Linked DNA regions of Homo sapiens. The protein of the gene in region 1 purifies or fractionates together with the protein of each later gene. This does not show direct contact. Each region holds a gene or a part of one and is shown on either strand. Other genes may lie near its edges.

Region 1 (6,495 bases):
CAAACATAACGGTACAGAGGTTCCCATACACTTAATGTTCACAGGTAGAATGATGCACCCCATTTAGGTTTCCTAATTGTTTGCTAAAACCACAGCAAACATATTGAAATATGTTCCAGCAGTGAGGCTCCCTCCTGCTATGCTTTTAAGTGGAACCTGAGGGAAAATGCAAAGCCGTGGGCAGCAGGGCTAAACAGTTGTGTAAAACTGCCACTATTGTGGAATTAGAAACATGCACGTATTTCTTCTCAGCTACGTCTGAATGTCAGAGGGAAAGCCTATTGAGAGTGAGTGCTGATCAATAGAAATCTTTTTCGCTTTTTTAACATGTGACCAGGAAGGATCAGACATTGTTAAGATAATGAAAACATGAAAAGACAAAGCCTGTGAATACAAGATAATATCCAATGATACTTGAAATATTCAGCTAAAAAATACTAGAAAAGTAAAACATTAAAAAACAAATGTCAGATTTAGCATTTGTTTTTAGGAACCACACACTAAATACAAAGACCGTGCCACCAGTTAATTTTATTACGTCTTTGCGACAAATTCATTACAAATGGCTGTCATAACTAATTATAGAGGATACATATTTTTTAATTAGGTTTTCCTTTTTCTTCCCCTCGCACGTCTTAGTTTCCTTCTTTTCTTCCCAAACACAGATCTGGCGGTCACGAGGACCATCTTCTCTTTCCCTCCATCGTCATCACTATCACTAGAGCTGCTGGTGGTCGCACCTCCATTCTTCACGGGAGCTTCCTTCACTGAGTTCTGCGAATCTGAAGCACTGGTTTTTGGCTCTTTCGCAGCTGTTCTCCTTTGTACATTCATTAAAGATGAACTTTCAGCATCTTCACTTGAAGATCCATCAGATGATTCTGAGAGGCAGGTCTCCCCCAAAAATCCACCGCATGTATTCTTTCCTTTAGAATCTGAAAGCCTCTTTCTTTTCAGGCTTGATGACTCTTCTAAGGTATTTGTTATGCCTCTCTTCTGGGTTTTTCCTTTTGCCTTATCAAGTAGCTCAAATTCTTTCTCCATGGCAACAGAAACTGCTTCTATTTCGCTGGCTGCTGCTTCTTTCTCTTTCCTTAGCATACATGTCACAGCTCTGTTTAGTCTCTGGCTCTTAATACGTTTAGCATCTTCTTTCTCCTGTTGTGCTAATCTAAAGAAGGAATCAATTCGGAGCTGTGTCTAAAAAAATAACAAAAGAATAATAATAATAAATCAGACAAGTAAGTCAAGTTTCTAAACCAAATCAACAAGCTCAACCTTGATCACTCACATTGGATTACTATGTCAGAGAATATTAATTCATTATCTCCCAAAACCCAGTTCTCTCCCAGTGAATTACTGACAGTAATTTTCACTTTCTAAATCATACCTAAAGCAGTACTTGTACCATCTCTGTCAACTAAGTCTTTAGTCCACATCTCAAATGAGAAATCTCTTCCTAAGATATTCAAAGAGCGTTAAATATTTTTCTGTAGCTAAACATTTCATCTTCCTCAGGAGCAACACGACTTCATGGGGCCTGTTTCTAAGTCCTACTATATCTTTCTTTTAAAAACATTATCATCATACAATACCTTTGAGAGGCAAGTTCACAGTATATATTAGCAACTGTAAGAAATATTCATGCCTTTTATTCAGTAAATTCACTTTTAAGAAGATATTCTTTGGCCGGGCATGGTGGCTCACGCCTGTAACCCCAGCACTCTGGGAGGCCGAGGTGGGTGGATCACGAGGTCAGATCGAGACCATTCTGGCTTACACGGTGAAACCCCGTCTCTACTAAAAAAATACAAAACATTAGCCAGGCGTGGTGGCGGGCGCCTGTAGTCCCAGCTACTCGGGAGGCTGAGGCAGGAGAATGGCGTGAACCCGGGAGGCGGAGCTTGCAGTGAGCCGAGTTCTCACCACTGCACTCCAGCCTGGGAGACAGAGTGAGACTCCGTCTCAAAAAAAAAATATATGGGTAAAGCTATATGCCTAATGTTCATCACAGCATTACTATAACAAACTTGAAAATTAAAGGTCTAACAAGTAAACTGAACTAATTATTTAAATATCTTTCATGAAATATAATCTAGTCATCTGGAATTAAGAAAACCACACAATACATAGAAGAAAATATGCTAATAAGTTGGGGGGGAGGATTAGATCTATTAAGTTACATTTAGTATGGCCACAAATAAATGCAGGAAAATTTTTTAACCTAAATGTTAACAACTGTATTAGAGGAGGTAACTAATGAGTAGTTTTAATTCATTTTCTTCATTTTCTAATTTTGGAAAAATAAACACATTAAGTTTTAGAATGAAAAAGGAGATAAATATTACAACAAAATTTATCTGAAATTAAGAAATCACCAGACACTAAGACAAATAGCTTTCCTTTTTGGTTGGTTTATAATGTTTCCAGTAGATAGTCATCCAAAAAACAAAGAGAAACTCATAGAAATGCTGTCTTAGTTTTGTTCATGTTTTTCAAAATTATCCAAGCCTAATGAAAATGGGTTTAATTTAAATATATTATCACAAAAGCTACATTCTCATTTCTGCTAAGTGGTTTATTTGTATGTATGTTTTGTGGGTTGTTTCTAGTGTGGGCGAAAGCTTGTTTTGTGTGAGTCAGAACATACTCACAGATAAAGCAAGAAGTAGGTACCTAGAGGAACTAAAGGTCATACAAAAGGGCTCCTTCCCACAAAAACCTCTCCTACTGATACACAATAATGACTGAACTTCTACCTTTCAAGATTCGTTTATAGAATTTAAAAATATTAGTACTTATAAAAACTTAAATGATCAGAATTGCTTTGAAGACTTCCTTTCGTTAAAAAATGAAAGTAAATCCCAAGGGGTAATGTATTTAATCAGAAACACCTTAGTGTGAAATCAGTTATTAGACTGGTTTTTTCAAAGAAAAAAATGAATATGAAAGGACTCCAAAGTTCAGCCCTAAGAGTGATCATAGAAAATGAAGCCAAAGTCTAACTTTTCTTTTTCTATTTTCTTCTATTCTCTCATCTAAATTATCCTAATTTCAAAATGTCTGCTCTATGCCCCAAAATAAGAGTTAACTGGTCTTTAACAGCTGTCAACCACAGCCTACCCTTCATCCTGAACTTAGGAGAAGGGTCCACCATGATTACCTGCTGGGCATCGAGTTGCTTTAATACAGGAAACAGAGATTCATCTGTCTTCGTTCTGTTCCAGCCGAAATACCGCTGACAAAATATGCATGCAGTTAAGACTTATAAATATTTTGAAAGATATTTAAACAAGTGACAAATAAAAAGGTCCAAAGAACCCATTCTTGATTCCATTCCCTGTATCTCCTAAGATTTTCCTATTTATAAAGATTAGAGTGCTAAAAGAAAGTACTAACAAAATAAATGACTCCAGCATAATCATCTGGCACTATGTTCTTTTCAATTCTATAAAATAAAACATATTTAGCTCTCACTTTAGGACATCAAAGACTTGTGACTATGAAAAAAGGTTAACTGGAATAAAAACAAGTTTCAGATATCTTGCCTATTTCATTAAGAGAAAAAATCAAACGTAGTTGGATTAATTCTAGTGCAAGTTTTGAAACATCTATCCAAATGATTACTTAAATATACACGGAAAGGACAACCAGTAATAAAAAGGACAAGATTAGTCATCTTTCCTTCTTTCAGAATCAATAATATTTAAGTATGTGGTTATATCTATGAATGCTTATCACTGCTTATTCAAACAAAGACCCTCTTTAAAACTAAGGAGAGGGGCCAGATGCAGTGGCTTGTGCTACTTAGGAGGCTGAGGCAGGAGGATTCCTTGAGCCCAGGAAGTGGTGGCTGCAGTGAGCTATGATTGCACCACTGCACTCCAGGCTGGGTGACAGAGTGATACACTGTTCCTTTAAAACAAACAAACAAACAAAAAACAACAACTGAGGAGAGGGAAGAAAGAGTGAAAAGGAGAGCGGGATATTAAGAAAATGGGATTAACGGGATATAAGAAAAAAATGATCCAAGTTTCTCTTCCATAAGTTTTAAACCAAACACATATTTGACAAGGTGTTTCCTTCTCTTTTAAGAAGCAAAGGATATTCTCTAATTTTGTCGAGATCAGGTTTCCCCCACAGAAAGGATCCCTTCGAGTCATCCACCACGGGTTTGAGGTAGGCCTCGGCAACAGCTGGGTTAGGAAAGCCAGGGGTGAGTTGCAATGTCCGTAATTTTTTTTTCACTTTGGTGTCATGAGGATTAGGTCTTATCTTTGGATTTTTTTGAGCTTCATGCCACCATTCTCTGTAAAATAAAGGAAACAATTACTTACACAGCAATGAGACATTATAGTTCATACACTATGGATGAAGAACTAAACTTAGAACATGTAAACTCAAGTTCTAACTCAAATTGTATGCTATATAGAATATTTTATTAATTTTAGTACTATTAGCCACAATGTATAATGATGGCAAACATTTATGGAAGTCTTCCTCTGTGCTTGGCACTGTGTTAAATATTTCACATGCCCAATCATCACACAAGCCATGCCCTATCGTTACCCTCACCTCACAGAGGAGGGAACTGAACTCAAAAATAAGTAACTGGCTCAAGATTTCACAGCTGGAATTGGTACAGTCTTCCTCTAGAGCCCACACTCATAATTATACCACAGAAGTTACAACTTCTCTGGGTCTCTTTCTCAGCAGTAAAATGGAAGTAATGTATCTGTATTATTTACCTCAAATCAAATACAATAATGGATCGAAGAATATTTAATAAAATGTAAATATGCCAAGAAAATGTTAAATTTGTTTAAAAAATCTGTAAAAACAGATACATGTATCTGTTTTTAAAATTTAACATTTTATATATATATAAATACATATGTATGTAAAACAAATAAATATATACAAAAACAGAGATAATAGAACTCTACTTAAAGTATGATTCCAGTTTTGGAAAAAACACATATATGAGAAAAGTAAACAGATACTTAAAATAAATAACACTAACAACTATTATTTCGCTGTGTGCTAGGCAATATTCTACGTGAGCACACAGCCATTCATTTTCTTCTTTATATTTTATTCATTTTTCAATGTTTTCCATTCTAAGCCTAAATCGGCCGGATAAAGACAGCGACACACTCTTGGACCCTCCTCCCATCACGAAGGGGGTCCCTGTGGCCTCCTCTTGAGCAGGGCGGCCATGGCTGACCAGTGTGACTCAAGCCGTGCCAGGCCTAGGGGAGGCCCTCGCCACTTCCTGTCCCCTGGACCTCCTGCTCTTGGCTCCAACATGCTATGAGGAAGCCAAGCTCACCAAGTGTCCACCCAGGCCCCGAGGCCGAAGCCACCTCATCAGCCCCGCGAGCCATCTTAAGGGGTCCTAGCCCAGCTGAGCTGTCCTAGCCGACATGGAACAGAGACAAGACACCCCCACCAGGCCTGAGCGAGCTTCAGAGGCATGAGCAAAATCAGTGACTACTGCTGTGTGAAGCCACTAAGGCTGAAGGTAGTTTGTAATGCAGTGACGACTGACCAGAAACATTTACACAATTAGGAAAAAATAAATGCCATCAAAGTTACTAACATAATCCTCACCAATCTATGTACTCAATGGAACCTGAAAAAACGCCCGCAGCTCAGGCTCCCCCGCTTCACAAGCTTGCTAGTGCAGCATTAGGAACCCACTCAGACCGGCTGTCAGGGCCAGGGTCCGCCTCACCGATGCAGGAGTGCCATCTAGCGTTGGAAATTACTAATTGCGGTCTTCAAAGTATTATAACAACAAAATGCAAAAAGGAAAAAATAATTTTTCTTCATTACTTTTACAACATTCTTTCCAGGAGTGCACTGAGAGAATACCGATAATTCTCCTCTACTTTACTTGCAGATTTTCGTTTTTGAAACTGTAATCATGACTGGCAGTTAGAATCAGTGCACTTGTGAGCTCATCAAGCCAAAGCTATGGTTACTCCTTCAAGCAGGAGGGCCTGGCACTTCACATAAAGATGAAAGGAGGAAGGTGTCTGTCAATCAGCTGAGCTGGGGGAGTGGAGGCAACTGTGATGAAACTGAAGGATTCATGCCCAGTCCAAGGCCTTGGGGTAGGGGAGGGGAACTGCTGTTGCTCCATGCCAGCTATTTTGGGGCTATCCAGAAATTCAGGCCCAGTATTTTCAGCTCTCCTTTTTCCCCCAACAGAATCCATAATTTTGTGTAAAATCTCCCAAAGGTAAATGTTGGTAGCCAATTGAAAATTAAAGCTCAAGAGAAGAATACACCGTGTAGTCCAAACCAAATGTGACTACAGCTCAATTCAACCTGCAGGCCCAATGCAGCCCCACTCTAAGAATGATTCACCAGCCAGGGTGCCCTCAGAAGAGGAGAACAGAAAACAAAGTGAGGCCACATTCTGATTTTACTGGTTTCCCACCATCCTTCCTGCTCTTTACTCTGTATTCATCCTAAATGTCCTGAGCC
Region 2 (7,031 bases), on another chromosome or scaffold:
ATCCTAGAATAAGGCATATTCTAGGTGCACCCTAACAAAGACTAAAATCAAGCCCCAACAAGTTTTTGAAGGGATTAAAAATGTGAGGTTGAGTTACACTAAAGTAAGGAAACAATGGGTTCTCCACATATCATTCTAGCAAAGAGTAAAACCAAGCCTACACAAGTTCAAAGTTATCTGCCAGTAACTGAACTACCTGCAAGAATTTTTAAAATCAACACTTTTCACAAAAATACAAAATCCAGAATCTCTATAATATACCACCTACAATTAAAAAGTAGTAAACATGCAAAAATAAATAAGCAGAAAACTGTAACCTACAGTCAAATAAAAGCAGTCAATAGAAACCAACCCTGAGATGGCTGGGCGTGATGGCTCACACCTGTAATCCCCGCACTTTGGGAGGCCGAGGCACGCAGATCACTTGAGGTCAAGAGCTTGGGACCAGCCTGGCCAACAGGGCAAAACCCCATCTCTACTAAAAATACAAAAATTAGCCAGGCATGGTAGCAGGCACCTGTAATCCCAGCTACTTGGGAGGCTGATGCAGGAGAATCACTTGAACCTAAGAGGTGGAGGTTGCAGTGAGCCAAGATCATGCCACTGCACTCCAGCATGGGCAACAGAGTGAGGCTCTCTCAAAAACACAAACAAAAAAGAAACCAACCCTGAGATAGCCAAGGAGTTAACTCTTACAGACAGAAACCTTAAGATTGACTATCATAAATATTTTAAAGGAATTAATGGAAAATATGTTCAAAAAATTAAAGGAAAATGCATTCAAAGAACTAAAGAAAAATATATTCTTGATGAGTATATAGATGGGAAATATCAGAGAAATGAAAACTATAAAAAAGATAAAAATGAAAACTCTACGACCAAAACAATACAATAAGAAATGAAAAATCTATTGGATGAGATTAGAAATGGCAGACAGGCAACAGTGAACCTGAAGATAGATCAATAGAAAATATATAATCTAAAGAACAGGGAGAAAGAGATATGAGTAAAATTAACTTCTCAACAGAAACACTAGAGAACAATGAAATGATATCTTTTGTATGGTCAAAGAAATGCCAACCCATAATTCTATATTCAGCAAAAATATCCTTCAAACACTAGGGTGAAATAAAAACACTTTCTTATAAACAAAATCAGAGTATATTCTTCACCAACACACCTACACTATAAGAAATGCTAAGGAGCTGGGCGCAGTGGCTCACGCCTGTAATCTCAGCACTTTGAGAGGCTGAGGCAGGCGAATCACCTGAGGTCAGGAGTTCAAGGCCAGCCTGGCCAACATGGTGAAACTCCATCTCTACTGAAAATACAAAAATTAGCCGGGCATGGTGGCACACACCTGTAATCCCAGTTACTCAAGAGGCTGAGGCAGGAGAATCGCTTGAACCTGGGAGGCGGAGGCTGCAGTGAGCCGAGATTGTGCCATTGTACTCCAGCCTGGGCGACAGAGCAAGACTCCGTCTCAAAAAAAAAAAGAAATGCTAAAGAATGTTCTTTAGGCAGATGGAAATCAATATGACTATAAAATCAGATCCAAAGGAAGAAGGGCAATATCAAAGATAGTAAATAGGTGAAAATAAGAGACTATATTTCACCACTTCATACCCACTAGAATGGCTATAATCAAAAGACAACTATAACAAGCATTGGCAACTACATAGAGAGACTAGAGCCCTCATTCACTGCTATAAGATGGTACAGCCACATTGGAAAACAAACTAAACAAAGAGTTACCATATGATCCAATAATTCTACTCCTAAATATATACATGAGAGAAACAAAAACATTTGTCCATACGAAAACTTGTACATGAATGTTCACAGCAGCATTATTCATAACAGCCAAAAAGTAGAAATGACTCAAATGTTCTTCAACTGATGAATGGATAAAATGTAGTATAGCCATACAATGGAATAATATTCAGCAATAAAAAGAAATGTTGTACTCATACATGCTACAACATGGATGAACCTAGAAAATATTACACTATGTAAAAGAAGCCAGTCCAGAGAACCACATACTGTATGATTCCATTTATATGAAAGGTCCAGAATAGGAAAATCTACATAGTCAGAAAGTAGATAACTGGTTGCCTAGTGCTATGGGAGGGGGGAGTTGAGGAGTGTGACGGCTAAGTGGTGAGAGGTATCTTTGTGGGGTAATATGTACATCTCTGAGAATATACTAAAAGCCATTGAAACGTACACTTTAAATGTGTGAATTTTATGGTACGTGAATTATATTCAGTGAAGTAGTTTTTTAAAAACATACCTTTCCTTAAAGACAACTGACTGTTTAAAGCAAAAATAACAACAAATCACAAATACAAATAAAAGATATGCTGAAAGAAACCACTAATAATAATAATAACAATGAGGAGTTAATTGTTGGCCATAAAAGGTGACTGTAATCCCAGAACTTTGGGAGGCTGAGGTGGGTAGATCACTTGAGGCCAGGAGTTTGAGACCAGCCTGGGCAACACAGTCAGAGACTAGCTCTACAAAAAAAAATTAAAAATTAGCTGGCTGTGGCAGTGCACACCTGTAGTCCCAAATTCTGGGGTGGCTGAAGTGGAAGGATCCCTTGAACCCCTGAGTTCAAGGTTGCAGTGACCTGTGATAAAGCCACCACACTCCAGCCTGGGTGATAGAGTGAGATCCTGTCTCTTATTTAAAAAAAAATAAAAATAAATAAAAAATAAAAAGCTACCGGCTAATAGGCCAATACTTTAAAAAATCCAATTATTTCAAAATAAGGCAGGAAAGGAGCAAAAGAACAACAAAAAAACCAAAGGAATACAAGGAAACATGTAGACTTAAACCCAATGATATCAATAATTAGATATAATGGACTAGTACACCAATTAAAAGGCAGAGATTGTCAATCCAGATAAAATGGCAAGACCCAGTGAAGTAGAGTCTCCCAGAGACAGACACAAATTGGTTGAAAGTAAATGGATGGGGGCCAGGTACAGCAGCTCACTCTTGTAATACCTACATTTTGGGAGGCCCAGGCAGGAGGATCACTTGCGCTCAGGCGTTTGAGACCAGCTTGGGAAACATAGCAAGACCCCATCTCTACTAAAAATTAAAAAAAAAAAAAAAAAAAAAACCCCAGGCGCAGTGGCTCACGCCTGTAATCCCAGCACTTTGGGAGGCCGAGGCAGGAGGATCACGAGGTCAGGAGATCGAGACCATCCTGGCTAACACAGTGAAACCCTGTCTCTATTAAAAATACAAAAAATTAGCCAGACGTGGTGGCCCGTGCCTGTAATCCCAGCTACTCGGAAGGCTGAGGCAGGAGAATGGTGTGAACCTGGGAGGCGGAGCTTGCCGTGAGCTGAGATCGCGCCACTGCACTCCAGCCTGGGCAACAGAGCGAGATTCCATCTCAAAAAATAAAAATAATAAATACATAAATAAATAAATAAGCCAGGTGTGGTGCCATGCACCTGTAGTCCTAGCTACTCAAGAGGATGAGGCAGGAGGATCATTTGAGCCCAGGAGTTTATGATTGTGCCACTGATATTACATGGGTTAAAAAATTTTTTTAAAGTAAATGAACGGAAAAATGCACACTATCAAATAGTAAGCACAAGAAATCTGACAGTGCCAAATTATTATCAGACAGAATCTTCAGGAAAAAGCATATTACAAGAGACAAAGAGGGCCATTTCATAATGATAAAAGGAGAAATGTATTAGGAAGGCATAACAATCCCAAATATGTACCCAACAAGAGAGTTCCAAAATGCATAAAGTATGACAAAACTTACAAGAAAAACTGACAAATCTATAATCATAGTGGAGTAATTCATAAGATGAGTAGATAAAATAAATTAATAAAGATACAGAAGATCTGGTAATGCTATCAACCAAGATGGGTATGGTAATATGTACCACGTTTATAACTTATACTACACTACACCCAACAACCACAGAATGTATATTCTTTTCAAATGTACACTGATTGTTCACAAAGACAGGCCATATGCTGGACCATAAGCAAGCTTTCAGAAAACTTCAAAAGACTGAAATTTTATAGAGTATATCCTCTTATCACAACAGAAAATTATAAAATAATATATCTAGAATGTTCCTGTTCTAAATCTTCCACCTAAAATAAGTGCCTTTTCCTAATTTTCTACCCAGAGGGGGCTCTGTTTCCCAATTTGCACAAAGGTACTGAATAAGATCAGTATATTAAATGAGTTAACACCACTTATTATTCTTATCAACAAATAAATTCAAACTTAATCTGATAAAACTTTTAAACATAACTAACAATTTAGAGGAAATACTGAGAACAGAAGAACATATTTAACAATATCACAGAGATGCAATAAGCAAAATTCGGACTCTTCAGGATAAACTATCCAGTAACATCAGTAAATGAGAGAGAAATAGGAGAACAGAAAAAAAAGGGAAAAAAAGAAAGAGAAAGATGTTAAGTAACTATCACAAAACATTGCCTTTATATATCAAGATGGTAGGTACTTGATTTTGCTTATCTTGTACTTTGCGTCTCGTGCGTGATGAAAAAAGTAGATTTAGCACATAAAATTTCCAGAGACAGGTTTTGCCAAGAATGGTTGGGATAGAAATTAATTTTTTTTTAAGATGGAGTCTTGCTCTGTAGCCTAGGCTGGAGTGCAGTGGTGTGATCTCGGCTCACTGCAACCTCTGCCTCCCAGGTTCAAGTGATTCTCCTGCCTTAGCCTCCCCAAGTACCTGGGATTACATGCCCATGCCACCACACCCAGCTAATTATTGTATTTTTAGTAGAGACGGGGTTTCACTATGTTGGCCAGGATGGTCTCGAACTCCTGACCTCAGGTGATCCACCCGCCTCAGCCTCCCAAAGTGCTGGGATTACAGGCGTAAGCCACTGCACCCAGACAGAAATTAAATTATTAAAGGCTGTAGTTAAATGAGAATTAGATACCACTGCCTCCATCTAATTCTATATGCCTTCAGAATGGAAGGCCCATTTCTTGAAATAGGTGGCCTGATAAAGAAAAAAAATTACCATTTTCTGTAATTGAGACAATGTTCATCCTTGAACAGAAAAAATTAAAAAAAGAACATGAAATCCAATCTTCTTCTATATGCATACAATCAATTCATTTGTGCATTTGCTAGATTAAATTGATAAGTAGGGAAATATGCTTCTTCAATTGCTAGCAGCTAAGAGACAAAGGTATTTAATAATGTTTCACCTCTTTTCTCTCCTCTCTGCTCCTGTATTTTCTCCCATAAGTAAAACTCCTAGTTAATTTTTCCATAACCCTATAGTTCCTCTTTTATGAAGCACTACTCCTACTCACTTTATCACTTGCCTCCAAAAAGTCTTTGCTACTTGAGGACATGAAAAAAAAAAAAATAAGTTAATAAAATCCTGCGGAAGCCAGCCTTCAAGATAGCCCAATGATATTCACACTCTTGGTATTCACACTCTTGTGTGTACTCTCCCACATTATAACACTACAAAACACCAGAGGTGATGGTATATCACTTCTATCATTAGGTTTTAAAAGGCTCTACAGCTTCCAGTTCCCTTCCTCCCTCCCTTTCTCTCTTCTCCCATCCATCTCTCCAATCTTCCTTACCTCCGCTCATATCACTAGTTCTGGGAGAAGCCACGTCATAAGTAGCCCTATGGAAGAGTCCATGGGGAGGAACTGAAGCCTCCTGACAAGAGCCACATGAGTGACCTTGGAAACAGATACTCCAGGCCCAGTCAAATCTAGACTGCAGTCCTAGCCAACAACTTGATTACAACATCCTAAGACCGAGCCAGAATCATTCAGCAAAATAATACCTGCTCTTCTCAGACTAACAAGCATATTATAAAAATGCCTATATTCAATCCCATGAAATATATGCCATAAAAACTCAACAAACTATCAAAAAATTTTTCATTAAGAGCCAAAATGAGGCTGGACACGGTGGCTCACGCCTGTAATCTCAGCACTTTGGGATGCCAAAGCGGGTGGATCACCTGAGGTCGGGAGTTCAAGACCAGCCTGACCAACATGGAGAAACCCCATCTCTACTAAAACTACAAAATTAGCCAGAGGTAGTGGCGCATGTCTGTAATCCCAGCTACTCGGAAGGCTGAGACAGGAGAACTGCTTGAACCCGGGAGGCAGAGGTTGTGGTGAGCTATCACGCCATTGCACTCCAGCCTGGGCAACAAGAGCAAAACTCCATCTCAGGCCGGGCGCAGTGGCTCACACCTGTAATCCCAGCACTTTGGGAGGATCGAGGCGGCTGGATCACGAAGTCAGTAGTTCGAGACCAGCCTGGCCAACATAGTGAAACCCCGTCTCTACTAAAAATACAAAAATTAGCCGGGCATGGTGGCATGCGACTGTAGTCCCAGCTACTCGGGAGTCTGAGGCAGGAGAATCACTTGAACCTGGGAGGTGGAGGTTGCAGTGAGCCTAGATCATGCCACGGCACTCCAGCTTGTGTGACAGAGCAAAACTTCGTCTCAAAAAAAAAAAAAAAAAAAATCCAAGATGTTTTTCTTATCAGAAAAGCATCTGATAAGATGCTTTTAAACATCTTTTAAAATGCAAGATTTTAAAAAATAATATTAGCCAATATAGGCAAAGTTGTGTGGCAATAGGAATCTCCATACAGTTGTTGGTAACATAATTGACAAGATCTTTTTTTTTTTTTTTTTGTAAGATAGGGTTTCCCTCCTGGCTAACACGCTGAAACCCCGTCTCTACTAAAAATACAAAAAAATTAGCCGGGCGTGGTAGCGGGCGCCTGTAGTCCCAGCTACTCGGGAGGCTGAGGCAGGACAATGGCGTGAACCCGGGAGGCGGAGCTTGCAGTGAGCCGAGATTGCGCCACTGCACTCTAGCCTGGGCGACAGAGCGAGACTCCTTCTCAAAAAAAAAAAAAAAGGATAGGGTTTCCCTATGTTGTCCAAGTTGGTCTCGAACCCTCCCTCCTCAGCCTCCCAAGTAGCTAGGATTACAGGTAGGAACAACCATG

The links. Proteins that work in one complex are often made in the same cells at the same time.
Region 2: the proteins of ERCC5 (region 1) and MNAT1 purify together in Homo sapiens (co-immunoprecipitation; 2 studies listed by BioGRID and IntAct, with this or other methods). This does not show direct contact.

Annotation. Positions count from the first base shown.
Region 1 is NC_000013.11:102,870,012-102,876,506, reverse strand, and holds the end of ERCC5 (DNA excision repair protein ERCC-5), read right to left. Parts: intron 4,310-6,495; coding exon 4,109-4,309; intron 3,249-4,108; coding exon 3,164-3,248; intron 1,201-3,163; coding exon 604-1,200; 3' UTR 512-603; downstream 1-511. Other genes in the region: BIVM-ERCC5 protein, read right to left, coding at 604-1,200, 3,164-3,248, 4,109-4,309. UniProt on the Homo sapiens protein: Single-stranded structure-specific DNA endonuclease involved in DNA excision repair. Makes the 3'incision in DNA nucleotide excision repair (NER).
Region 2 is NC_000014.9:60,737,761-60,744,791, reverse strand, and holds part of MNAT1 (CDK-activating kinase assembly factor MAT1), read right to left. Parts: intron 1-7,031.